6 separate regions of the Homo sapiens genome follow, and regions 1, 3, 4, 5 and 6 are each linked to region 2. The links come from fine-mapping of genetic effects on gene expression. A gene starts in region 2. Each other region holds a variant in brackets. All regions are shown on one strand. Distances are from middle to middle.

What was found. PIP is the estimated chance that this variant, and not a neighbour inherited with it, causes the effect. A credible set is the group of variants that fine-mapping cannot tell apart.
Region 1: its variant is the best candidate, but not a certain one, in a credible set for the expression of CROCC in whole blood (TOPMed, PIP 0.76).
Region 3: its variant is the best candidate, but not a certain one, in a credible set for the expression of CROCC in thyroid (GTEx, PIP 0.59).
Region 4: its variant is the best candidate, but not a certain one, in a credible set for the expression of CROCC in stomach (GTEx, PIP 0.89).
Region 5: its variant is the best candidate, but not a certain one, in a credible set for the expression of CROCC in lymphoblastoid cells (GEUVADIS, PIP 0.90).
Region 6: its variant is the best candidate, but not a certain one, in a credible set for the expression of CROCC in adrenal gland (GTEx, PIP 0.66).

Annotation. Positions count from the first base shown.
Region 1 is chr1:16,973,940-16,978,026 of GRCh38, reverse strand. MFAP2 (microfibril associated protein 2) reads left to right here. Exons shown (of 9, transcript NM_002403.4): 3 at 829-918; 4 at 1,104-1,130; 5 at 1,233-1,319; 6 at 1,482-1,526; 7 at 2,297-2,384; 8 at 2,685-2,758; 9 at 3,004-3,525. The coding sequence ends at 3,107. It overlaps LOC105376806 (a long non-coding RNA gene), which reads right to left and starts at 2,166. Exons shown (of 2, transcript XR_947003.3): 1 at 1,465-2,166; 2 at 232-358. RefSeq lists an enhancer at 2,770-3,577. The variant C/T (reference allele first, on the strand shown) is at 1,687.
Region 2 is chr1:16,920,125-16,924,211 of GRCh38, reverse strand. It overlaps CROCC (ciliary rootlet coiled-coil, rootletin), which reads right to left and starts at 2,281. Exons shown (of 37, transcript NM_014675.5): 1 at 2,134-2,281; 2 at 1,414-1,549. The coding sequence starts at 2,193. RefSeq lists enhancers at 1-367, 551-1,322, 1,323-2,094, 2,095-2,866, 2,867-3,639.
Region 3 is chr1:16,518,354-16,522,440 of GRCh38, reverse strand. TRN-GTT5-1 (tRNA-Asn (anticodon GTT) 5-1) reads left to right here and starts at 1,783; the gene lies at 1,783-1,856. The variant A/T (reference allele first, on the strand shown) is at 2,119.
Region 4 is chr1:16,678,039-16,682,125 of GRCh38, reverse strand. TRG-CCC4-1 (tRNA-Gly (CCC) 4-1) reads left to right here and starts at 3,785; the gene lies at 3,785-3,855. The variant T/A (reference allele first, on the strand shown) is at 2,175.
Region 5 is chr1:16,731,099-16,735,185 of GRCh38, reverse strand. No RefSeq gene overlaps it. Among named protein-coding and RNA genes, the nearest start is that of TRG-CCC5-1, 5.9 kb to the right of the region's middle. The variant C/T (reference allele first, on the strand shown) is at 1,711.
Region 6 is chr1:17,014,665-17,018,751 of GRCh38, reverse strand. It overlaps SDHB (succinate dehydrogenase complex iron sulfur subunit B), which reads left to right. Exons shown (of 8, transcript NM_003000.3): 8 at 1-30. Among named protein-coding and RNA genes, the nearest start is that of ATP13A2, 4.8 kb to the right of the region's middle. RefSeq lists enhancers at 1,883-2,418, 2,419-2,953. The variant C/T (reference allele first, on the strand shown) is at 2,323.

The DNA of each region.
Region 1 (4,087 bases), 54 kb before region 2:
CACAGCAGCAGGCAGGCAGGGTTCTGGAGGGCACGTCCCAGGCACAAGGACTCCGTGGGCACAAGGCACAAGGCCTCTCTGGGAGCCGATGTGCAGGTGCAGGGGCACCCAAGGCAGGGAGTCCGGATGCTTGAGTTCTAGATCCATTCAGGGCCCTTCTGCTCTATACAGTCCTGACCTTGTGGGGGTCCCTACTGGCCAAATGAAGAGAATCAATGAGGACCACAAAAGTCCTAGCAGGGCCAACATTCATTCATTCAGCAGCGATGTGTTGAGTCCCTACCACGTGCCAAGTGCTGGGCTAGGCCCTGGGGATTCAGCGATGAACCAGGCAGACACATCGTTGCTCCTCATCATGCTGCCAGTCCAGGGAAGGGAGACAAATAGGAAACAAGCAGACATGAGAAACTCCAGCATGTGCTGAGTGCTGGACAGAAATCAGCAGGAGGGCTGGTGGGCTGGAGGTGGGGCGGCATCTTGGCACAGCTGAAATTCCAGGGAAGACCTGAAGGAGCTGAGCAGGCCTCACAGGCCCAGGGAGTGTCAGGTGCAAAGGCTCTGAGGGAGGCAGGAGCATGTGGAGTCCTAGGAGCAGCCAGGAGGCCAGCAACAGGAAGGGGCAGGGTAAGGTCAGGGAGGTGACCCATGACCAGGGTGGGGAAGGGTCTTTACCATCGAAGAAGAGTCTGGATCCTCTAGGAATCTGCTTGTGGGGTCCTAGGCTCTTATGGGCCTGACCTTGTGACCCCCGCCTCCACTCTCCAGAAGCGCCTCGGGCCCCCGTTGCCCCTCCCGATGGGGTACCCTACATGCTTTGCCTCCCCACAGCAGGCTTGCTGGCTCAGGGCCAGTATGACCTGGACCCGCTGCCGCCGTTCCCTGACCACGTCCAGTACACCCACTATAGCGACCAGATCGGTAAGGGCCTTGCCGGGTCACCGAGGCCTGGCTGCTCAGATGTGCCTGGCTCAGCCAGGGACCGCACTGGACACGCTGATGGGAACTCTGGGGGTTGGTCCCTGGCTCAGGAGGGAACTTGTTTGCCCCAGGGGCTGGGGGATTAGCCTTACTCCCACCAATTCCACTTTCATCTTTGTTTGCAGACAACCCAGACTACTATGATTATCAAGGTAACGGGCTAGGGGTAGGATAGGACGGGCCGGCAGCTGGGGTGGGGAGACCCCCTGGGAGGGGTAGAGGGAGCAGACCCCCTTATCCTCCCCTGGCTGCAGAGGTGACTCCTCGGCCCTCCGAGGAACAGTTCCAGTTCCAGTCCCAGCAGCAAGTCCAACAGGAAGTCATCCCAGCCCCAACCCCAGGTAGGCCCCAGACCCTGCTCCCACCCGTCTCAGCTCCTGCCTCACCCCTCCCCACCCTGTCAACCCTGGGAGTGGGGGTCTGCCAGGGCTGGGAGAGGTGACTCCCCTTGCCCTGAGGAGACCCCTCCCAGTGATGTCTGCCTACCTCTGTCTCCACACCAGAACCAGGAAATGCAGAGCTGGAGCCCACAGAGCCTGGGCCTCTTGGTAAGGGCTTTCTTGACAGCTGGAAAAATGGAGGCACGCCCTGAAGTTGGGGTGGAGTAGGGGGTGGTGCTGGTGGGCTGGAGGTCTTTGGCCCTTGCCCATGTGGGCTCTTGGCAGTGTGGGCAGTATGACTGCCGTAGGCTGGCATCACCAGGCCCCC[C/T]AGGCAGCTCCAGGAGGTCCCACCTGTCCCCAGTGTGCCTGGCTGGAGGCTAAATTGGCAGCCTAGGAAGGCCCCTGACCTCACAGATACTGGGAGGGGCAGGGAGTGTGCTGGGGGCTTCCTGCCAGCCAGAGAGACTGAGTGGTGCACATGTGGAGGCGAGGAAGGGCCAGGGAGTGCAGGCTGGCTGAGCGGTGCCCTCCGGCTGCCCTAGCTGAGAGCTTGAAAGAACAAGGTGTGTGTGTGCAGGAGAATCCGTGTGCTCACTCTCGTGTGGGTTGGTGTGAGCGCTCCTATGTGGGCTTCTGTGAGCGTGGGCACGTCTGCTCGGGAGTTGGTATGGGCTTTTGTGGCGATGCATGGGTGGGTGCAAATTTCTGTTTGAACTTAGGCTTCTATAGTAAGTGCGGTTGTGAATTGATACGTGAATATTACAGCCCTGGGAAGTCTGACAATGCTGCGTGGGTCTATGTGGGCATGTGTAGGTATGGGTGTCTGCACGGGGCCTGAAGGTACAGGGGGGACTAGGCCCTGTGAGCCAGCCTCAGGTGGGTGAGGCTGGGGGCCGCCCCCCACTCTGGGCTCCTAGTCTGACCCCACCTGTCACCAGACTGCCGTGAGGAACAGTACCCGTGCACCCGCCTCTACTCCATACACAGGCCTTGCAAACAGTGTCTCAACGAGGTCTGCTTCTACAGGTGAGCACAGATGGGCAGCTGTCGGGAGGATTCCGGAGCATGGGGGGCTAGAGGGCACAGGGGACAGCTCTGGCCCGCCAAGGTGGGAGTTGGAGGAAAGATAGTGAGTCCTTAAGTTGAGCTCAGTTCTGTGGTTGAGCCTGGGCCAGGGACCTCCTCCACTCCTGGGCTCCAGTGCCAGGTTCTGTCCGGGCTCCCGTGCCAGGTTCTGTCCGGGCTCCCGTGCCAGGTTCTGTCTGGGCTATCCCAGTGGGATTGGGTGGAAGTGGGGCTGAGACCTCCCGTGCCCTGTCCCCGCAGCCTCCGCCGTGTGTACGTCATTAACAAGGAGATCTGTGTTCGTACAGTGTGTGCCCATGAGGAGCTCCTCCGAGGTAGGAAGGCCACCTCCCCAAGACCTCCCCTGTCCCCACACCCGCATCATTATCTGGCCACCTAGCCACCCACCTGATGTTTATTCAACACATATTATCCACCAGGCCCACTTCCAGGACACCCTGAGCTCCCCTCCTTGCTACTTTTCATCCTCAAAACACTCCCATCACCAGAGTTGGGGGAGGGGCAGCGGTTCCCATCACCCAGCTCCACCCTGACCCTGCCTCCTTCCTGCCCCCAATAGCTGACCTCTGTCGGGACAAGTTCTCCAAATGTGGCGTGATGGCCAGCAGCGGCCTGTGCCAATCCGTGGCGGCCTCCTGTGCCAGGAGCTGTGGGAGCTGCTAGGGTGGTGCTGGCATCCTGAGTCCTGGCCCTCCTGGGATCTGGGGCCCTCGGGCCCTGCCTGACCTGGTGCTTTTTTCCCCATCCCCATGTTCCTTTTATTCTGTAAAAAGTTAGTGGACTGCAGCCCTGGGGGTTGCAGGCTGCGGTGCCTCAGGCCCCTCCTTCAGCCTGTGGCCACCTCTGGGGCACAATGGGGGCTCCCCACTGCCCAGTCTGCCCCTCGGGTTGGGGGAGTATCCCAGGCCTCTCTGTGGGACCTGGGCCCCTGACGGGCCTTCTCAGCCCGTTTTGAGGACAGACAGTCCCCCGAGGTAGGCTACATCCCCCCACCCCAGCTGGTCTGCTTGGATTTCCTACAGCCCCCGTGGGCATGGACCACCTTTATTTTATACAAAATTAAAAACAAGTTTTTACAAAAGATCAAGTCACTTTTTCGGTGGAGAGCACAGAGGGGCCAGCCAAGTGCCCCCAACGCGGACTGTCCTGAGAGGCTCCTGACCCCTTGGAGTGAACGATCTGCTCAGGTGCCCTGTGCTTCCGCAGTCCCAGCCCCACCGCCTTACCCGCCGGCTCCAGCTCTGCCCTGCCCAGAACGCTGCGTCATGACAGTGTACGCGCGCATGCGTGTTGTGGGAATTGCACGGGAGATGGAAGGCTTCAGGGACACAGCTTTCTGATGACCGGGGCTGCTTGGTGAGCACATTGAGTTCCCATCACCAGAGGAACACAGCAAAAATGGGAGGCCGCCCATGGGGTGGGGGGGGCACAGGGTCAAGGCAGGCGGACTGACATCCAAGGCCTTTGTTTGGGAAGTTGGGGAGATGGGTGCCATTAAGAGGGCAAAAAAAGCGGGGCACAGGGACTCACACCTATAATTCCAGCACTTAGGGAGGCTGAGGCGGGCGGATCACTTGAGGCCAGGAGTTCGAGACCAGCCTGGCCATGGCGAAATCCCGTCTCTAGTAAAAATACAAAAAAAA
Region 2 (4,087 bases):
GGCTGCAGCACCAGGCCTGCAAACAGAGCTGAGAACAGGGAGGAAGGCAAGGAGGGGATACAAAGCTGGACGTAAAGTGAACACAACTCCAGCTAAAGTGTGGCCCAGCAGGTTTGGGAGGTGCAGGAGAGACACTCAGTCTAGGAGCCAGGAGACCCCTGAGTTCTTGCTCCCTCCTTTTCCAATTAGTCTTCTTCTCCGGGGCCTCAGATTTACTTATCTGTAATATGGGTGGGGCGGGCACGGACTCACGCCTGTAATCCCAGCACTTTGGGAGTCGAGATAGGAGGATCACCTGAGGTCAGGAGTTTGAGACTAGCCTGGCCAACACGGCGAAGCCCTGTCTCTACTAAAAATACAAAAATTAGCTGGGCATGGTGGTGTATGCCTGTAGTCCCAGCTACTTGGGAGGCTGAGACAGCAGAATCACTTGAACCGGGGAGGTGGAGGTTGCAGTGAGCTGAGATTGCGCCACTGCACTCCAGCCTGGGCAACACAGCGAGACTCTGTCTCAAAAAAAAAAAAAAAAAAAAAAAAGGTAGAATAGTAGTAACCAGATCCTCCCAGAAAAGCATCAAAGCCTCGCTCAAGAGAAGGGCTTCATGGAACTTTAAAGGCTAGGGCTCAGGAGAGCATAGCATAGGTCAGGTTGTGAGGAGAAGGAGAAAGAGAGAAGAGGGAAAGAAAGGCCAGCGGGAGAAGCGGGGTTGTCCACCTCCTGTGGGTTCCCCTTCTACCCTGGGAGAACTGGACATACACCCCAGGTGTCAGGGTGAGGGCCCTCTGAGTCTCTCCCTGTCTGGGGCTCCAGGGCGCCAACATCCCTGGCGCTCCCAAGGAGGGGGCCCGTCTGTAGCTTGGGAGTTGAACACAGACAATGGTTAGAGCACCAAAACGCCACACGCCAGCACACCAGCTGCAACTGAGTGTGCCTTTCCCAGATCCTCAAGCCACATAACTACACCGTGTGCGCCACCCACTGAGAGGAGCAGGGACCATCCGCCTTCCTGCCCACGTGGGAAACGGATGGACGGCGCCATCCACTCAGACTTCCGCAAAACCCTGGTCTGAGCTGAGCTGCCCTCTTCCTGTATCTTGGGTTCAGCCAGCTCACACCTTCCCCGGGTGGGAATACGGGATTTGGGGTTCACATCTCTGCAGCAGGCTACAGGCAAGCACGCAGGAGATGCTCGGCCCTTCCTTCTAGTTGCACCACATGCGGAATAAGTCTGGACAAATTACATCCCTGAGCCTCTGTTTCCTCATCTGTAAAATGGGTTCTTCTGTCATAAAGCTGTGCCTGCCCCACAGTGAGTTACAGTCATGATCATCATGGTGACTGCTCAGGAAAGGGACATGAGAAGAGGTAAAATGTGGGTGGTGTTTGTGGAGGGGAGCGGATGGGGGTGGCACCTGGGCTCTCAGGCTGGGAGAGGTTGCGGGTGACAATCTCCCTGATAAGGGCAGGCAGGCTGGTGATCTGAGCGTCCTGGGCCAGGTCCCGCGCGCCCAAGCCTTTCTCCTGGCACAGGACGCTGCTCTCCAGTGTCTGTGGGAAAAGCGAGAGGGTCTTCAGGGGACATGGGACCCGGGGCTCCCTGGCCTCGTGGGGAGAGCCACAGAATCCTACTGCCCAAGATACAGGTCCCCAGGAGCCCCCTCAAGATGGAGTGAAGCCTGGGAGTTAGAATCCAAAAAATCCCCATGCAAAGAGCCTCTTGTGTGCTCACTGCCCCAGGAAGAAGGCCCAGGGCCAGAGATGAGAACCAAACCCTACGGGTAACTCCCAAACCCCACTGGAGGCAGTCCAGTGTTGGGGGCCCCAATCCGGTTCCGACCCTAGATGGATGAGGATCTGGCTATGCCAGAGGTCCCCCAAGCCCTAAAATCTGGCAGTAGAGACCCCCTTCTCCCAACCCAGGGCACTGGGATGAGGGAGCCACAGCAGGTGCACCCTGTGTGTACCTCTGCCCCCCATCTTGCCAGGAACTGCAAGCGGGGGGCCCCTGTATACCCCACCACCACCACACCTCTCCCACCCCTTGATCCCCAAGACGCACACACCTCTCACCACTCCTGTTAAGTCCACGCTGCCCCGCCCCAGACAGGGTGGGCACAGCCCCCAGGACCCACCTGGATAACCGTCTCTAGTGTCAGCTCCACCTCCTGTGCCCCCGCCAGCCCCAAGCTCATGGGGGGGAGGCTGTGGGCATGCCTCCAGCCCCCTTCTCCAGGACCCCAAGACTAGCTCAGTCAGCACGCGCCACAGCCAGGATGCTGTGCTGAGCACCAGGCAGATTAAGCTTAAATCCGGCGGCGCCCCCATGTGACCACCGCGGTGGGAGGAGCAGGATGTGGGCTGAGGAGGGAGGGGATGGGAAAGGACAGGAGAGGAGGGAAGCAGAGGCAGGGAGCCAAAGGAAGAGGAAGGATGAAGAGAGGGGAGGAGAAGGGAGAGAAAAGGAGGGAGGAGAGAGAAGAGGGAATGGGAGGAGGAAACAGGGGAGACACCTGGAGGTCAGGACCTCACACACTCTTCACCCTGCGCAGGTTGCTGGGTCCTAGAGCCCTCCAAGCCCAGGGGGTGGGGTCAGTAGCCATGCGGCGGGAAAGGCCAGAGTCCTAAGTATTTGTGACCATCTTTCTGGCCCAGAACGGGAGTCACATGGTTAGCTAAGAATGAGAGGATTTACAGCATGCTGGGAGTATGTTTTCCCACAACAGGTGTAGGGCAAAGAATGCAGGCTGTGAGATCACCCAGGCCAGGCTTGGCACTTAGTTGGGCATGAGCGGTCCAGCCTGGACTGATGAGCATTTATGCAACACCTGCGGCATTCCTAGGTCTGACCTAGACACAGTGGTAGAGCCTCGAACTACAAATGCCCTAGCCTTGCCCTTCAGGCACTTATTGGGAAGCTTCTGGCCCCTTCACACCCACCCCAGCCCCCACTAGCTGGGTGCACCAGGGACACTGACTTTGCCTCTCTGAGACTCAGTGTCCTCTTACGTAAGATGTGATAATATTGGTACTCATCTCTCGGAGCCGTCCGGGGATGAAACAGTATCGTGTGTGCATACCCAGCACATGACATGGTGCTGGGGGGTCACGTGGCCAACACTCAAGAAATACTCATTTCATTCATTTGAAAATCCAGAAGGTACAGTCCCAGCCAGGCGCAGGCACTCATGCCTGTAATCTCGGCATTTTGGGAGGACAAAGCGGGTGGATCACCTGAGGTCAGGAGTTCAAGATCAGCCTGACCAATATGGTGAAACCCCGTCTCTACCAAAAATACAAAAATTAGCCGGGTGTGGTGGTGCACACCTGTAATCCCAGCTACTTGGGAGGCTGAGGCAGGAGAATCGATTGAACTCAGGAGGCAGAGGTTGCAGTGAGCCAAGATCGCGCCATTGCACTCCAGCCTGGGCAACAAGAGTGGAACTTTGTCTCAAAAAAAAAAAAAAAAAAGGCACAGTCCCTATATCCCAGGGCCCTGAGACCCAGAGGTCACCCACCACCTCCCATTGTTCTTTCCCTGGGGCAAGGAGGCTATGTGCTCTAGTGCTTAGGCGCACAGCTCTGGAGTCAGTATCAGGTCTGAGGTTGCATGTGAGACTCAGCTCTGTCACTTGCAACTATGGTGTTCAAGACAGTAAGACCTTGAACAGGTTACCTCCCTGAGCCTCAGTTTTCTCATCTCTAAAAGGAGACTAAACCAGGCCAGGTGCAGTGGCTCAAGCCTCTAATTCCAGCACTTTGGGAGGCTGAGGCGGGCAGATCACTTGAGGTCAGGAGTTTGAGACCAGCCTGGCCAACATAGTGAAACCCCATCTCTACTAAAAATACAAGAATTGGCCTGTAATCCCAGCACTTTGGGATGCTGAGGCAGGCGGATCAGGAGGTCAAGAGATTAAGACCATCCTGGCCTACATGGTGAAACCCCGTCTCTATTAAAAATACAAAAATTAGCTAGGCATGGTGGTGCACACCTGTAGTCCCAGCTACCTGGGAGGCTGAGTCAGGAGAATCGCTTGAACCTGGGAGGCAGAGGTTGCAGTGAGGCGAGATCATGCCACTGCACTCCAG
Region 3 (4,087 bases), 400 kb after region 2:
CAACATTTTTAAAGTACCTAGAGAAAAAAAGTTAACCTAGAATTCTATGCAAAAATAAAATTTCAAAACTGTGAGTGAAATAAGAACATTGAAAAACATACGGAAGCTAAAAGAATTCACCAACCCACGCTACAAGAAATCTTGCGTCCTCCAGGCAGAAGCAAAAGGATACCAGATAAAAATGTGGTCCTACACAAAGAAACGAATATTGGAAATGGCATTTAGAAAGCATGTACTACACGTTTTCTTATAATTTAAATCTTTCAAAAAATATTTGACGTAACAAATAAAAGTAATAATAATGAATCACAAAGGTTATAGTGCATAAAGTAAAGATACATAACACTAGGATAAAGGCCAGAAAGGGAGGCATAATGACACTAGAAAGCAGACTATGATAAATTAAAGATGTATTCCGGAAACCCTAAAGCAGCCTCTGAAATAAGAAAACGGTTATAGCTAATAAAGCAACAAAGGAAAGAAAACGGAATGAAATAAAAGCTATGTAAACACTATGCTGGAACAACTACTCTCCAGGCCTCCACCCTATAGAAATACACCAGTGGCCAATGAGAGTGTACAAGAATGATGACTGCAGCATTACTTGTAATCATAAAATGATAAAACCAACGTAATTTTAAAGATATAGGAAAAGGGTTTTATTTATTTAACGGACAGACAATTGAACAAGCAAACAATGGGAGCAAGTCCTTTGCCAAAAGGAACACAGAGGGTCATGATGATGCTACTCCTCCAAGGATTTCAGAGTTCCCAGACGCCTAGTTTTCTGTCTAGTTCTTCTGGAAGATGTTATTCTTGGGGAGCAATAGGTCCTCGAGTTTGGGGCTCTTTCAGGTTCTCTCTCCATTTCCCCATTCTACTACAATAAACAAACAAACAAACAAAACAATTCTCACTTCCAGAAGATCCTGCCTGTGCCCCTTCATGAGCCTTTCAGGAGGTCTGGATGTCTGGTCCACCGCTCCCCGGCTTCTTTCCCAGCTTTTGCTTTTTCCTTTCCCAGCTCTTGACCTACCACCCCACGGCCGCACCACCGCCCAGCTGAGCCCCCGTGGCTCCACCGCGCAGAAGGTGCGCCAGAGACCCTGCCAGTTGCCCTCCCTGCCGGGTGCCGAGAAATCAACGCTTTGTAAAAAGAACTTCCCCGTGGAAAAAATCTCTTGATTTCCACTCTCAGGGCTCTTCAAAGGACTAAAAGCTAAAGGCGACGATGAATTCATTCCACAAGTCCTAGTCGTGCGCCCTGGTGAGTACCAGACCCTGCTCCCCGCGAGGGGACCCACGAGCGACCCTCACCACCATCCCTGCCCTGGTGGAGCCCCCGTGCGGAACACAGGATCCGAAGATGGCAGCGGAAGCTCCTCAGCGGCCCGGAAAGCGACTGGGCAGGGTGGGCACAGGCTCCTTCAATGGGTGAAGGCGGCGCAAAGAACGGGAAGAACCATCCCAGGAGCCCACAGGGCGTTCAGCTTCCCTTGGGGCCCCAGGCAGCTCGGGCTGGGTCGCCCACCAGGGAGTTTCTGGAAGCTTCTGCAGCAGGCGAGGGGCAGGGCGGGCGAAGGCAATTCTGCTGTTCTTCTGGCTCCAGAATCTCCTAACACGCAGGCGTCCAACGTGACCGGCGCGACTCACCGCTCTAATCTCTCTGGTTTTCCAAGGCCTTGCTCAGTGGTCCTGCCCGGTGGGCCCTGAGAATAGACGGAACGGAGGAAGTTCAGTGAGTGCGCCCTTCCTAGATGCCCAGTAGAGTTGGAAGCGCTTGTCTCTGTGGCGCAATCGGTTAGCGCGTTCGGCTGTTAACTGAAAGGTTGGTGGTTCGAGCCCACCCAGGGACGCTTATTGGAACTTTTGAAGCATTCACGCAATGTCAATCACTAGATAAATGGGGAAGATTTTATCTTCCCAAAGTCTCAAGCCACTAATTTATGACAGATCCATGTCAAGGGCCGCCCACCTCCCCGACCAGATTCTTAGCCGGCTATCTCCTGAAATGCCGGGTTTACACCTGTGTCACTAAGGAATCCTGAAACAGAGACCTAGGAACCCACTTCTGATGTGATAAAATTCTAATTCAGTCCGTTATACGCTTAAACGAGT[A/T]TTTACGTGTCTCCATTTTTTCATATTTTAGTAATAGGAGTCCAGTATTACCTCCAGGATGTGCCTGGGTTTCCTGATTGCTCTATCAATAATGTGACCAGTGGAATCATTCATCATGAAAGTGATTCTCTCCATCATTTTTGAAAATAGTATTTTTCCTCAGTTTATGCATGATTTATTTAACCCTTTTCAAAATGTTTTTGTTAGCCAGGTATGGTGGCATGCACCTGTAATCCCAGCTACTCGGGAGGCTGAGGCAGGAAAATCGTTTGAACTTGGGAGGTGGAGGCTGCAGTGAGCTGAGATCACACCGCTGCACTGCCTGGGTATCAGAGCGAGACTCCATCTCAAAAAAACAAAATGTTTTTGAGATGACTTTAGTTTCATAGTTTTAGGATTACAAAGAATGCTGCAGTCACCAGTCCTGTACAGATATCTTTGGTCATTGTGGAAATGTTTACCCTGCAGACATTTCTATAGTGTAGAGAGCTGGATGTGCCATTGCTACATTATAGTGCTTGTATAATGCTTCTAATCTGAGTCCATTCTGCAAATGTATCTTTCACGGGAGCAGTACCAAATAATATTCCAATATGAATGTTTATAAGAGGAAAAATGTGCAGATGTGCAGTTGAGCTGCGTGCCTCTCCATGGGGCTCATGTTCATAAAATGGTGGCGTTAGCAATCATCTGAGAGTGGAGTTTGTGGCCCTCTGACGTCAAAATCTGAGGCAATGGACATGAAAACCCTCACTGTACATCCTCTGTAGTCTGGCCAGAATGATTCCTAGGTCGGTGGTCTCTTATCAGGAGGGAATGCTGCTTGCTTGTTTTGTCAAAACCACAAAAGGGAGGGAAAGCATCAGGCTGTTGGTTGATAACAGCAGTGAAGCAAGTCTCTCCAAAGGCTTGGATTGTTAACCCTTAGGAAAAAAAATCCTAATTCTTGCCAGATGGTGCCGTGCATTTCCAGGCTCTTGGTGTCCCAAACAAAGAACTGTACATGACACACACAAAGCAGCAAAGCAAAGCAAAATTTATTAAGCACAGTAACAGTCTCAGAGTGGGGAGAGTGGGCTGATCTCTGGGATGTGAGATCAGTATTAGTTTGGTGTACGTTGGGTCTTTTTATGTGTGTTTCTTTCTCTTCTCTTCCCAAGGATGCCTAATCGTTAGCCAGTGTTTGCCTTTTGATTGATAGGTGGGTTGCTTAGTTACTTTGGCCCTTGTGTGCTTGCACATTGCCTCCATCCCATAATTTTAAGTACATGCATGATGTGCAGTCCATATGCATGAGTTTTAATGAGCTGATTATCATATGGAGTCATGTTAAGGATACTTTTTTTCTCTAATGCACATGCCTATCTCTGAGGAGCTGCCCCTTTACTGGTTTGGATCTCACCGGCCATGGGGTCCTGGCTTGCTTTTCTTTTTTTTTTTTTTTTTTGAGACAGAGTCTCGCTCTGTTGCACAGTCTGGAGTGTAGTGGTGCAATCTCGGCTCACTGCAACCTCTGCCTCCCGGGTTCAAGCGATGCTCCTGTCTCAGCCTCCCAAGTAGCTGGGAGTACAGGAGTGCACCACCACGCCCAGCTAATTTTTTGTATTTTTAGTAGAGATGGGGTTTCGCCATGTTGGCCAGGCTGGTCTCAAACTCCTGACCTCAGGTGATCTGCCTGCCTTGGCCTCCCAAAGTGCTGGGATTACAGGCATGAGCCACCGTGCCCAGCCTTGCTTGCTTTTTTAAATCTTACTTTTTGTTTTGGCTGCTCAACTTCTGCCTTATATCTTGCTTCTTGCTCTCCCACCCCATCACCTTGCTTCTTTCTCTGCTTTCACTCACTCTGCCTTTTATCCAACTTCCAATTCCCTCTGCTGTTCTCCTGCATCATAATGGCAGTTAGTGAGGGGAGGGTTTTGAGGTGGCATGTCCAACCTCCTAGCCTGCCACATCCAGAAACTGCTTTCGA
Region 4 (4,087 bases), 240 kb after region 2:
CTAGGGAGGCAGGAAGAGTTCTGGGTATATGGAAAGTCAGAAAACATCTGGGTCCTATGAAAGGACATCAAAGATCTGAAGGCCCAGCTGCAGAATGCCAACAAGGTCATTCAAAACCTCAAGAACCGGGTCCAGTCCCTCTTGGTTACAAGTGATTATTCATCTAGTCTGGAAAGACCCTGGAAGCTGAGAGCTCCTGACACCCTGGAGGGGTCTTCACCTCATAGTGTCACTGATGAGGATGAGTTGTGGCTGTCTGATGGCACTGGGGCTTTCTACTCTCCAGGACTTCAGGCCAAAAAGGACCTGAAGAGTCTCCTCCAGAGAGTATCCCAGCTGGAGGCCCAGCTCCCAAAAAATTTATCTAGGGACATATAATTAACATATATATAACAGTTGAAGAACAGTGGCATGGTAAATTTTTGTTTTGTTTTGTTTTGATACAGAGTCTCACTCTGTCACCCAGGCTGGAGTGCAGTGGTGCCATCTCGGCTCACTGCAACCTCTACCTCCCAGGTTCAAGCAATTCTCCTCCCTCAGCCTCCCAAGTAGCTGGGATTACAGGCATGTGCCACCATGCCCAGCTAATTTTTGTGTGTGTTTTTAGTAGAGGAGGGGTTTCACCATATTGGCCAGGCTTGTCACGAACTCTTGACCTATGATCTGCCTGCCTCAGCCTCCCAAAGTGCTGGGATTACAGGCATGAGCCACCACGCCCGGCCCATACTAAAATTTTTAGTGCGATACTTTATCAGGGTAGAATTTGCTGTTAAATGCCTCCTATGGCTTATGTGCCAGAATTCAGTTTGGGGGAGTTCCTTAGAGATGTTCTCATAGAAATCTCTACAGAAGCCCCCATAACTTATCATCCACCCTTTCCTCTTCTGTCCTGCATTAGGAAATATGATTCCCTGATTCAGGATCAGGCCCGGGAACTGTCTTACCTACGGCAAAAAATACGAGAAGGGAGAGGTGTTTGTTATCTTCTCACCCAGCATGCAAAAGATACAGTAAAATCTTTTGAGGATCTCCTAAGGAGCAATGACATTGACTACTACCTGGGACAGAGCTTCCGGGAGCAACTGGCCCGGGGAAGCCAGCTGACAGAGAGGCTCACCAGCACACTCAGCACCAGTAAGTTGGCCACAGGGCTTTGGATACTCTCAGTCACCCCACAGTTCCAGCCCCTGGTGGCCACCACATCTCCACTGCAACTTTTTAACGTAGGGTCCTGTTTCTATTTCATTTCCTGGGGCTAATATAGGATCAAGACTGCTCAATGGGGAGCATGGAGAGGAACACACAGGGCTGGAGATGCCATGGTTACAACTCTAGAAACTTCACCACTCATGGAATGTGACCTGTGGGGCAGGGGAGACATCTCTCTGGTGCTAAGAGGGAGTAGGGGACATGACATGGAAGGGCCTTGTTATAGGAGGAAGAGCCGTGAGCTAAGAATTGCAAGACATCGAGGCGCTGAGGCCAAAGGGTCCGTGAGGAAACAGGCGCAGCTCACGCCCCTCGGCCTACGGGAGGGAGGGCAAGGAGGGTTCTACGGTTCCTGGGAGGACGAGAAGAGCCAAGAGCCCCGACGGCCGGCGCCGGGGAAAAGGCCCCGAGGCGGGGTCCGCATCCCTGGAAGGGCGGCGTCCACCCTCCTGAGAGGCACGGGGCGCCCAGGGCTCGGAGGCTCAAAGCCCGCCGGCTCCTGCAGCTTCTGGGAGCCGAAGAGTGTCAGCCGGGAGGATCCCGCACACGGCGCTTAGTTCTGGAACTGCATACCCAGGGGAGGATGCGGGAGCCCGAAGCCCGGGTATGTGTCCCCGAAGCCCGGGTGTGGGTCCCCATGGTTTTCGTGTTGGGGGTGGGCGCGGAACGCTAAGCCTGGGCCTATTGGGAGCCATAGTCTTCTTGATGGCTGGTGCTTATTGGGCTTTTTTCAGTCGAATTTCGAAATGCAGTTGAATTTCTTACTTTGGAAACGATAATAGAAATGGCTGATCTAAGATTTTCATGATGATATTTTGCCTTTTTTGGTGCATATGCAGTTTCTGTGGTGTAGTGGTTATCATGTTCGCCTCACACGAGAAAAGTCCCTGATTCGAGACTGGGTGGGAACGTCGTGGTTTGTTTTTTTTTTTGTTTGTTTGTTTGTTTTTTTGGTCCCTAAATTT[T/A]GTGAGTTTAATCGAGGTTGGGAAACAAACAGAAAAGTATTTGAACCTGTGGCTACATTTTAGACCTCCTCAATCTAGACAGATTGTTGACCAGGTACAATTTCCACTGGTCTGCCAGCAAGAGGCCTGCTTAATATTAGCTTTGGTTCCAGAAATTCCTTAAGATTCTCTTTATTCTCTTCTGTCGCCTGAATTTTCACAGGCTGACACTGAAAGTGGATGACATCTTAGCGCATTTCCTAAGGGTCCCGCTTGGTTTGGCTTTACTCTGGTAAGTTGCAGATCTGGCTGATTTGCAAGACAACAAAAACAAAATATTTTTTAAAAAGGTTCTAAATCTGCATCTGGAAGTCATAGAGTCCATATTCCTAAATCACATGAATTATGTATATACATTTGCATGCATACCCCTTCCTCAAATAATCCTCAGAAAACCGGTTAAGTTTTAGCATCTGTGACTCAGATGCATATGAGGCCTTGGTAGATTTAGAAGTTGAGAGTAGAAAGTACAGGTTTGTATTTTAGAAGGAGATTTGGGAATAAATGTAGCTTTGGTTGATATAGATCATATGTTAAGGTTTGTTGGCCAGAGCTGGTGTGTGTCTTGGGTGTTGGGCAAAGAACAGAGAACAGCCAAAGCTCTGCGAGGTCAATGTGAAGGATGATTTCCTTGGTGGGCTCAAGTTTATGACTCAGCCTGGACCTAGCTTGGCTTCTCAGCTTGAGAAGAAGCATGATTCCATGTCACAGCTCCTGTCTTTGAAAAAGTCATAATGACTCCCAGACCCAACATGTGGAGAAAACTCTGGATTTGTCTCTTCAGTTGAATGTCTCCATTGAAAATTGAGGAAAGAAATCTCTCTAATATTTGAACTTCATCAAAAGACTAATATGTTAATATTTGACCGTCAATATTTCCTTAAACTAGTCTACTGCTTACATAGCTAACACATCAAAGCATATTAACTTAGGAAATGGGATTCTCCCAAACAATGAAACATTGACGGCAAGCGTTCTTCATCTTTTCACATCACATTTCCTTCAAATGCTTTATACATCTTCAAGCAGACAAATAATAGTATTATAATGATTACGAGACCGATCATTACTCTTTTGCCAAAAAAAACCAACGACAAAAGACTAACTTAGTGGACCAACCTTTGTTTCTTCATTATCTCTACCGTGGTTCTGTCCTTTTATTTCGTCTTTCTTCTAATTCTGCTTCTGCTTCTTATTTCCTCCCTGGATTTGAACTTTACTTACCTAAACTACCAGTTAGGTTACCTTCTCAGAACCTCTAAGGCAGCAGTTTGAGGTTGATGATGGAAGATTTAGGATTAGAAAAAAGAAACATGAATGAATTTCTGATGTTTTATTATAGGGGTTTGTAATGCAGGTAGAAAGACCTTTTTCAGAGTTAAGAGTTTGATCCGACAAATGAGCTATTTTGATATTTATAACGTTGTCTAATAAAAGTTTCCTATAAAAACACATTTGGTTTGGATGTCTTTGTTAGCTTTTAGTCGACACTTGAAAAAACCGCTTAGAACAGTTTCTAAATCTTTGTGGTTACTCTTTTCTGTTATCCTCCAGGGGGTAGTTCCAGAGAGGCGTTGGTGGTTTAGTGGTAGAATTCTCGCCTCCCATGCGGGAGACCCGGGTTCAATTCCCGGCCACTGCACGTGGTTGTTTTTCACTTCGCTATGGCTCTTTACTTGTCTTTTACGCTGAAAATTATACTGCATAACCCAAGAGTGCATTTAGGGGCTTGGCCACCACAAGGTAAAGTGACAACAACACTCACCAAAGTAGCGGCAGGAGACTAACCCAGGACCCCATGCAGTTGTTGGACTCAAACAGCTTAGCAAGCTGGCAAGCATGAAGTGTCTCTGGTGAGTCACTGCAGTTTTGAT
Region 5 (4,087 bases), 190 kb after region 2:
AAGATTAGCCTACCAACAAGCAGGACACAGAAAAAATACATATATAAGAAAGACATGATAAATGAGACTTCATCAACATTAGCCACACCTTCTCATCAAAAGATACCACTAAGAAAGCGAAAAGGCAAGCAAGCCACAGACAGAGAGAAAATACCCACAAAACGTATCTGACCTCCACATCCTGCAATTATAATTATAGTGGTCTGGTACACTGCACCCAGTTTCTGCTGGATGGAGTATTTTCTGGGTGTCTCTAATGAGTAAGAGAGGGCCCCATGGGATATTCCTTCAGTTCCCAGATGAACAGTGGGAAAGACTCCACATTGACCAACCTCGGGGGCCTGAAAACCCAGGTCCTCAAGGAGGGTAGAGTATACCTGGACCCTGACCCAGACCCCTGGATGGGCTGTGCCAAGAGACCCAGCAAGGGAAGGGATTTCCTCCTGCCTCAGGTTCTCTGTTCTTCTGTGGTTAGACCACCTGAACCCAACTCCCTCCCCAAGCACTAGAGATGGGCTTTTCCAAGGGCTGGGGATCTTGCTGTCCTGAGGACAGCTGAGCAAGGGGGTCGAGGAGGAGCTTGGGTTGTGGAGGAGAGGAAACCGGGTAAGATGCGTGAAGCAGTTGGCTATACCAGGCACAGAGAGGACCCGCTGGGACCCAAGAGCCTGCATGTGAAGCCAGGCCTTGGGCCACCTTGTCTGTCAAGGGGGTGCCTACTTCCATGGTGTCTTCAAAGGGACTGTGGAAAGAGAGGCCTTCAGCCCACACCTCTGAATGCTTTTCCACCACAGCATGCCCTGTGGCCTTTATCCTGCTGGTGTGGAACAGTCAGACCCCTGCAGGGCTGCAGAGCCTCTGTACTGGGCGGCATCCCAGCCTGAGTGCCAGAGCTCAGAGGGCAGGCCCCCGAGCAAGCAGAGAGGAGGGCACCTTTTGGACAGAACGTGTGGGACAAGAGCGATGGCTCATCCGTTCAGGTTCCTCACAAAATGAGAGTCAGGAAGATCAGGGCGCCGGCCTGATTTCCCAGGCAGGGCTGAAAGCAGACAACCGGAGGGAGAGCAGCACCTGGGCCAATGAGGTAGAAGACAGAAGACCACAGTGTACTCCTGCCCTCAACCTCACCCCCTCCCACCCACATCCTCCACACTCCCTGACCACCTTCCTCAGAAGTGTAATAGGAATCCAGATTCCCCCTGGCCTGGTTGCTGCAGGAGGCACAGTAGCCTGATGGAGCCTGAGGCAGGTGTGGGAAGATGTGGATTGTCTAACTGGAGGTTGGGAGTCCAGGGTGTAGAAGCAGCTTGGAGTGCAGGATTTGGTGGTACGTGTGTGGCAGTAGGCAAAAGAAAGAGACAACTGGCCGGGCGCGGTGGCTCACGCCTGTAATCCCAACACTTTGGGAGACCGAGGCGGGCGGATCACGAGGTCAGATGAAGACCACGGTAAAACCTCGTCTCTACTAAAAATACAAAAAAGTAGCCGGGCGTGGTGGCGGGTGCCTGTAGTCCCAGCTACTGGGGAGGCAGAGGCAGGAGAATGGCGTGAACCCGGGAGGCGGAGCTTGCAGTGATCTGAGATCGCGCCACTGCACTCCAGCCACTGCACTCCAGCCTGGGTGACAGAGCAAGACTCTGACTCAAAAAAAAAAAAAGAAAAGAAAAGAAAAGAAAAGAAAAGAAAGAGACAACTGAGCCACTTGAAATA[C/T]CATGAGAATTCAAATTCAGAAAATTCCCGGGGAACTATGCGTGCAGGCACTCACCAGATCCACAAAACAGCTGCTGCATAACTGCATGTTGCAAGCAAGCCCTAAATTGCTGATTTTGAAACAGCCTGATGGGTTCACAAAGACAATTTCTGAATAGTCGTAAGAGCAGAGGTGCACTAAAGCCACTGTGCCCTGCAGGCCCAGATCCCAGTAAGTTCTTCAAGGAGTAAGTCTTACTTCCATTTATGGAAGATTTTTGGAGTTGTCCTTGGTCACCCCCAGGAATGTTTTGGTTAGGAGTAGAATTTTAGATGTCATCAATTTAAAAATTAAAACTAAAACGCTGGAACTCATAGAGAGATAAAATTAAGAGAATACATTCACTATCCTGAGTAGAAAGATTTCTTATAGAACATAACAGGCTTTAAAAATAAAGAAAAAATATGGCAAAATTTCATCAAATTAAATGCTTTGAGAACTAAAATTAAAATCCAAAGCCACTCAACCAACTGGACAGACTGTTTCTTGGCCAAGGAGACCCCAGAGAAGTCTTAACTACTGAGTTCCTGCCCAGTAGTTGGAATCTCAGACACCTCTCCTTATACTCTCTCCCTTTGTGGTTTAGACACAACTGACCAGCATTATTGTTAAAATAGAGATCCTAAGACTGACAGAACAGACTCCTTGCAGTAGTAAGATATGGTATGATAAACGAGACCTAAGGCCACGCCAGGCAAGGTGGAGTCATGCGCCCCTCAACTTAAAGAATAAACTATGTTCCAATTGCCACAGGTTTTTTTCTTCTTCCTTTTTTTCTCTAGCTAAACAAGCACTGGCCTTGAGATAAGCAATGCTGAAGCACTTGCAGCTCACCCATTACCATAAACTGACTGAGCCCTCCCTACACAAGCCATAACTACAGCTTTGATTGGACAAGAGACTGATTTCAGTAACTTCCCCTTGATAAGAGAGCACTGGCTGTGGACGGGTTCTGGACGGTTTACAGAGGCTGTGCACTTGACTGCCTTTGTGTCCCTGCTTCCCCTTTTGAAGCATAGGGCCTAATTATAATGTATTTAAATGTTGTCTCCACCCCAAAATGAACATGGGTTGCATGTAACAGGCATGTTTACTCAGCATGCATGCAGCAGGATCCCTTCATGAATATTCAGAGCTCCTCCTATTCCCTGTTGAATATGTATATGTGGCCCACCACATCAACATAAATCCCTGTTCCCCCCTCCCCTCCCTGGAAACGTACTTTTCAGGTTTCAGCAGCAAGAGGGTATGCCTCCCTGTCTGTCAGAATGGCCACCTTGCAGGCTGTAACCATTTATAAAAAATAAAATCTCCCTTCTAAATTTATAAATTGTGTGATTTTTCAGTTGACAGCTTTCAGTCAGACTTTTCACTGACTGGGAAAAGTCATTTGCAATATATTTATTTTAAAAATGACTCCTCAGCATACAGAATTCTTGTGCAAAGATCACAAGCATTCTTATACACCAATAACAGACAAACAGAGAGCCAAATCATGAGGGAACTCCCATTCACAATTGCTTCAAAGAGAATAAAATACCTAGGAATCCAACTTACAAGGGATGTGAAGGACCTCTTCAAGGAGAACTACAAAACACTGCTCAACAAAATAAAACAGGATACAAACAAATGGAAGAACATTCCACGCTCATGGGTAGGAAGAATCACTATCGGGAAAATGGTCATACTGCCCAAGGTAATTTATAGATTCCATGCCATCCCCATCAAGCTACCAATGACTTTCTTCACAGAATTGGAAAAAACTACTTTAAAGTTCATATGGAACCAAAAAAGAGCCCGCATTGCCATGTCAATCCTAAGCCAAAAGAACAAAGCTGGAGGCATCACGCTACCTGACTTCAAACTATACTACAAGGCTACAGTAACCAAAACAGCATGGTACTGGTACCAAAACAGAGATATAGACCAATGGAGGAGAACAGAGCCCTCAGAAATAATGCCACACATCTACAACTATCTGATCTTTGACAAACCTGACAAAAACAAGAAATGGGGAAAGGATTCCCTATTTAATAAATGGTGCTGGGAAAACTGGCTAGCCATATGTTGAAAGCTGAAACTGGATCCTTTCCTTACACCTTATACAAAAATTAATTCAAGATGGATTAAAGACTTAAATGTCAGACCTAAAACCATAAAAAGCCTAGAAGAAAACCTAGGCAATACCATTCAGGACATAGGCATGGGCAAGTACTTCATGTCTAAAACACCGAAAGCAATGGCAACAAAAGCCAAAATTGACAAATGGGATCTAATTAAACTTAAGGGCTTCTGCACAGCAAAAGAAACTGTCATTAGAGTGAACAGGCAACCTAC
Region 6 (4,087 bases), 95 kb before region 2:
TGTTATTCTACTTTATTAACAAAAAAAAAAGAACCTGTTCCTTTACTTGCCGCAGGGGAATGTGAAGGTGCCAGGAGTCCTTGTCCTTGGAGAGATGGACAGGGCTTCAGAGCTGAGCGGGGGTGGGGGTACCCTAGCTGGAAGGAGGTGATGAGCCGTGGAACTGACATCAGCAGGGCCTGCAGCTTGTTCCCAGCTTTGCCACTCACCAGCTAGACAACCTTGGACAAGTTCCTTCACCTCTTTGCTGCTCCATTCGCCCATCTGTAAGATGGGATCCATAATTGTGCCTACTTCATTCATCTGGTATGAGAATGCCTGGCACTTATTCTGAACACTCAGTTAGTGTTAGTGTTCTGTATCTTCCCAGTTTCTATAGTTTTCAGTACCAGAATTACTGAAAACCAAATCTTGGTAAGTCTTTGGATACGTCGGTGAGGCCAGGTTTGAGATTCCTCCAGCACAGAGCAATGACCCTGGTCAGTTGTGAATCCAGTTAGTTCCACAAATGACCTCGTGGGGCCTCTCACTGCAAACATCAACTCCACAGCACTGCTGCCTTGGCTGGCATGCTCACTGCACAGCCGGGCGTGGTGGCTCACGCCTGTAATCCCAGCACTTTGGGAGGCTGAGGCGGGAGGATCATTTGAGGTGAGGAGTTCAAGACCAGCCTGGCCAACGTGGTGAAACCCCGTCTCTACTAAAAATACAAAAATTAGCTGGGCAGTGGGTGTGCGTGCCTGTAATCCCAGCTACTTGGGAGGCTGAGGCAGGAGAATCACTTGAGCCTGGGAGGTGGAGGTTGCGGTGACCGAGATCACACCGCTGCACTCCAGTGTGAGCAACAGAGTGAGACCCTGTCTCCACAAAACAAAAAAGCAATGCAAAAAAGGAGAAAGGGGGAAAGTAAAAGTGGAAGCTCCTCCAAACTCATCCCGTTGATAGCTTAGACATTTCCTTCCACACTCTACGTTATTACAGTTATGCAGCATATATAAAACTTTCTCCCTTCAAAAGTAAGGTACCATAGAGCCAGGAGCTGTGGCGTGTGCCCCTAATCCAGCTACTCAGGAGGCTGGGGTGGGAGCATCACGTGAGCCCAAGAGGTCGGGGCTATGGTTTGCCATGATTGCGCCTGTGAATAGTTACTGCGCTCCAGCCTGGGCAACATAGTGAGACCCCATTCCTTTAAAAAAAAAAAAAAAAAAAGCCTGGAACAGTGGCTTCTAGCACTTTTGGGAAGCCAAGGTGGGAGGATTGCTTGAGGCCAGGACTTCAAGATCAACCTGGCCAACATAGTGAGACCCTGTCTCTTTTTTTTCTTAACATACCAAAAAAGATTTTAAAAATAAAGGGGTATCCTATAGTCTGCCAGCAGCTATTTTTTTTTTTTTTTTGAGACGGAGTCCCAAAAAAAAAACTGCACTCCGCCTCCCGGGTTCACGCCATTCTCCTGCCTCAGCCTCCCAAGTAGCTGGGCCTACAGGCGCCCGCCACTATGCCTGGCTAATTTTTTTGTATTTTTAGTAGAGACGGGGTTTCACCGTGTTAGCCAGGATGGTCTTGATCTCCTGAACTCGTCATCCGCCCGTCTCAGCCTCCCAAAGTGCTGGGATTACAGGTGTGAGCCACTGCGCCCGGCCTCTATTTTTACCTCACAATGTAGAAGGGATTTCAGTGCTAATAAAGACCTACCTTTTTGTTGTTGTTGTTTTGTTGTGTGTTTTTTTTTTTTTTTTTTTTTTGAGACAGAGTCTCGCTCTGTCGTCCAGGCTGGAGTGTGGTGGCGCGATCTCGGCTCACTGCAGGCTCCGCCTCCTGGGTTCACGTCATTCTCCTGCCTCAGCCTCCAGAGCAGCTGGGACTACAGGGGCCCGCCACCACGCCCGGCTAATTTTTTGTATTTTTAGTAGAGATAGGGTTTCACCGTGTTAGCCAGGATGGTCTCGATCTCCTGACCTCGTGATCCGCCCGCCTCGGCCTCCCAAAGTGCTGGGATTACAGGCATGAGCCACCGTGCCCAGCCAAGACCTCCCTTATCTGTGTGTGTGTGTATGTAAAAATTTTTGGAACTCCTGCTTAAGAGCACTGTGGCATGGGTGTACCCTTATTTAACCATTCCCCTACTAAGGCACATTCGGGTGGTCCCTATTCACCTTTTCATCCAAGGCTGCTTTTTTAAGTCGTAGCTGGAAACCTCTGGATCATCCGGAAAACAAAGGTTTCATGCATCCTGAGGCAAGCAGCTGAGAAAACGTGTGACTCACCGAGAATGAGCCTTAATGAGCATTTTCTGGCTTAAAGGGCTGATTCAACAAGCAT[C/T]TGTCTCAGGCATTATGGAAGGTGAGGTGCTGGGGACAAGGATGAACAAGATTTGTTGCCTGCCTGCCACCTAGGAGCCAAGGTCACAAAGGAAAAAGGAACAAACATCAGAAATTTCAAGAACAGGGCCGTGTGCCCCTCCCTACAGCATCTTGGAATTCTTGACTATCTCAGTGAGACACACAGTACATGGCCCTGCGGCGCTGAAGCCTAAGATTGTGGAGTGCACTGGCTTCTTGAAAGACAGTGGAACTTGAACTGCGGGCCATGTCTGTGGATAGCTTCTGTTCCCCAGCTCAGACCTAATGGCTTTCTATCAGCCTGGGGAAAGGTCACATTCCTTGGATTCATGGATAATTTGACTTGGCTTCTAATCTCCAGATCTGTAGGGAAAGATGGGTTTTTCTCATGAATGACTTTTTTTTTTTTTTTTTTTTTTTGGAGTCTCGCTCTGTCACCAGGCTGGAGTGCAGTGGTGCAATCTTGGCTCACTGCAACTTCCGCCTCCCAAGTTCAAGCGATTCTCCTGCCTCAGCCTCCCAACTAGCTGGGGTTACAGGCGTTACGCAGCTAATTTTTGTATTTTTAGTAGAGACAGGGTTTCACCATGTTTGTTGAGCATACTGATCTCTAACTCAAGCGATCCACCTGCCTCGACCTCCCAAAGTGCTGGGATTACAGGTGTGGGCAAGCACACCCTGCTTCTCATGAACAACTTAATGCTTTGTAAAGATGGGTCCGCAACAACTGATAAGAGGCAGGGTGTAGCTTAGGAGTCGCCACTTCAGATCAGCGTCATCAGAGGCTGGGTTGACTCTGATGGTCACTCTCCGCAGTTGAACTCCAAGTTAAATTGGTATATGTTATCAACTGATAGTTTAATTTACTGCTTAATCTTTCATTGAATTGGAGACAAATGTTCTATTGCAACAGTCACAAAGGCTTTTCCAGTAAAACTGCAGACCTGTGTGGGGAACAGTATTTTGTCCTGTATGCTACTTCTGTGCCCAGTGTGCCTTCATTTACAAGATAATACTTCCAGCCTGGCCCTGTGGCTCACGCCTATAATCCTAGCGCTTTGGGAGGTGGGAGGATTGCTTGAGCCCAGGAGTTAGAGGCTGCCGTGAACTAGGATCGTGCCTCTGCACTCCAGCCTGGATCACAGAGCCAGAACCTGTCTCTAAAGAAATTAAAAATAAAAATAGAATTTCGTAGGACTGAAGCCAGCCATCCCTTCTTACCTAGCTCTGGACATGTTGAACATCTGTGACTCTATTTTCCTATCTGTAAAATGGGAATTAACAGCATTCCCCTCTCAGAATTATGGTTGAAGTCTAAAAGTAAATGTGAAAGCATCTTGCCTGCAGTAGAGTAAATGCTCCATAAACTCAAGTGAACGGATTTGTCTTGAGTACCTACTATGTGAAAGGCCCTCGAGTGAATGCTGGGAGGCTGCAAGAGTAATTCCTTCCCAACCCTGAGTTGACAGCTGGCATGTTTCTGACATGACTGGCCAGAGCTAGAGGCCTCCCTGTTGGGAGGATGGTTTTTCCGTGCAAGGCTAATATTGCTTATTTCTCATCTCTCCCGTCACACTGCTCAGGTCAGGGAGGGACTCCCATTGGTCAAATTCTCTTCAGGCCCCTTCCCTTCCTGGCACCAGGATAACTACCATACAAAGTGCTGAAACTCGGCCAGGCACAGTGGCTCACTCCTGTAATCCCACTTTGGGAGACCAAGGTGGATCTCTGAAGCACAGGAGTTC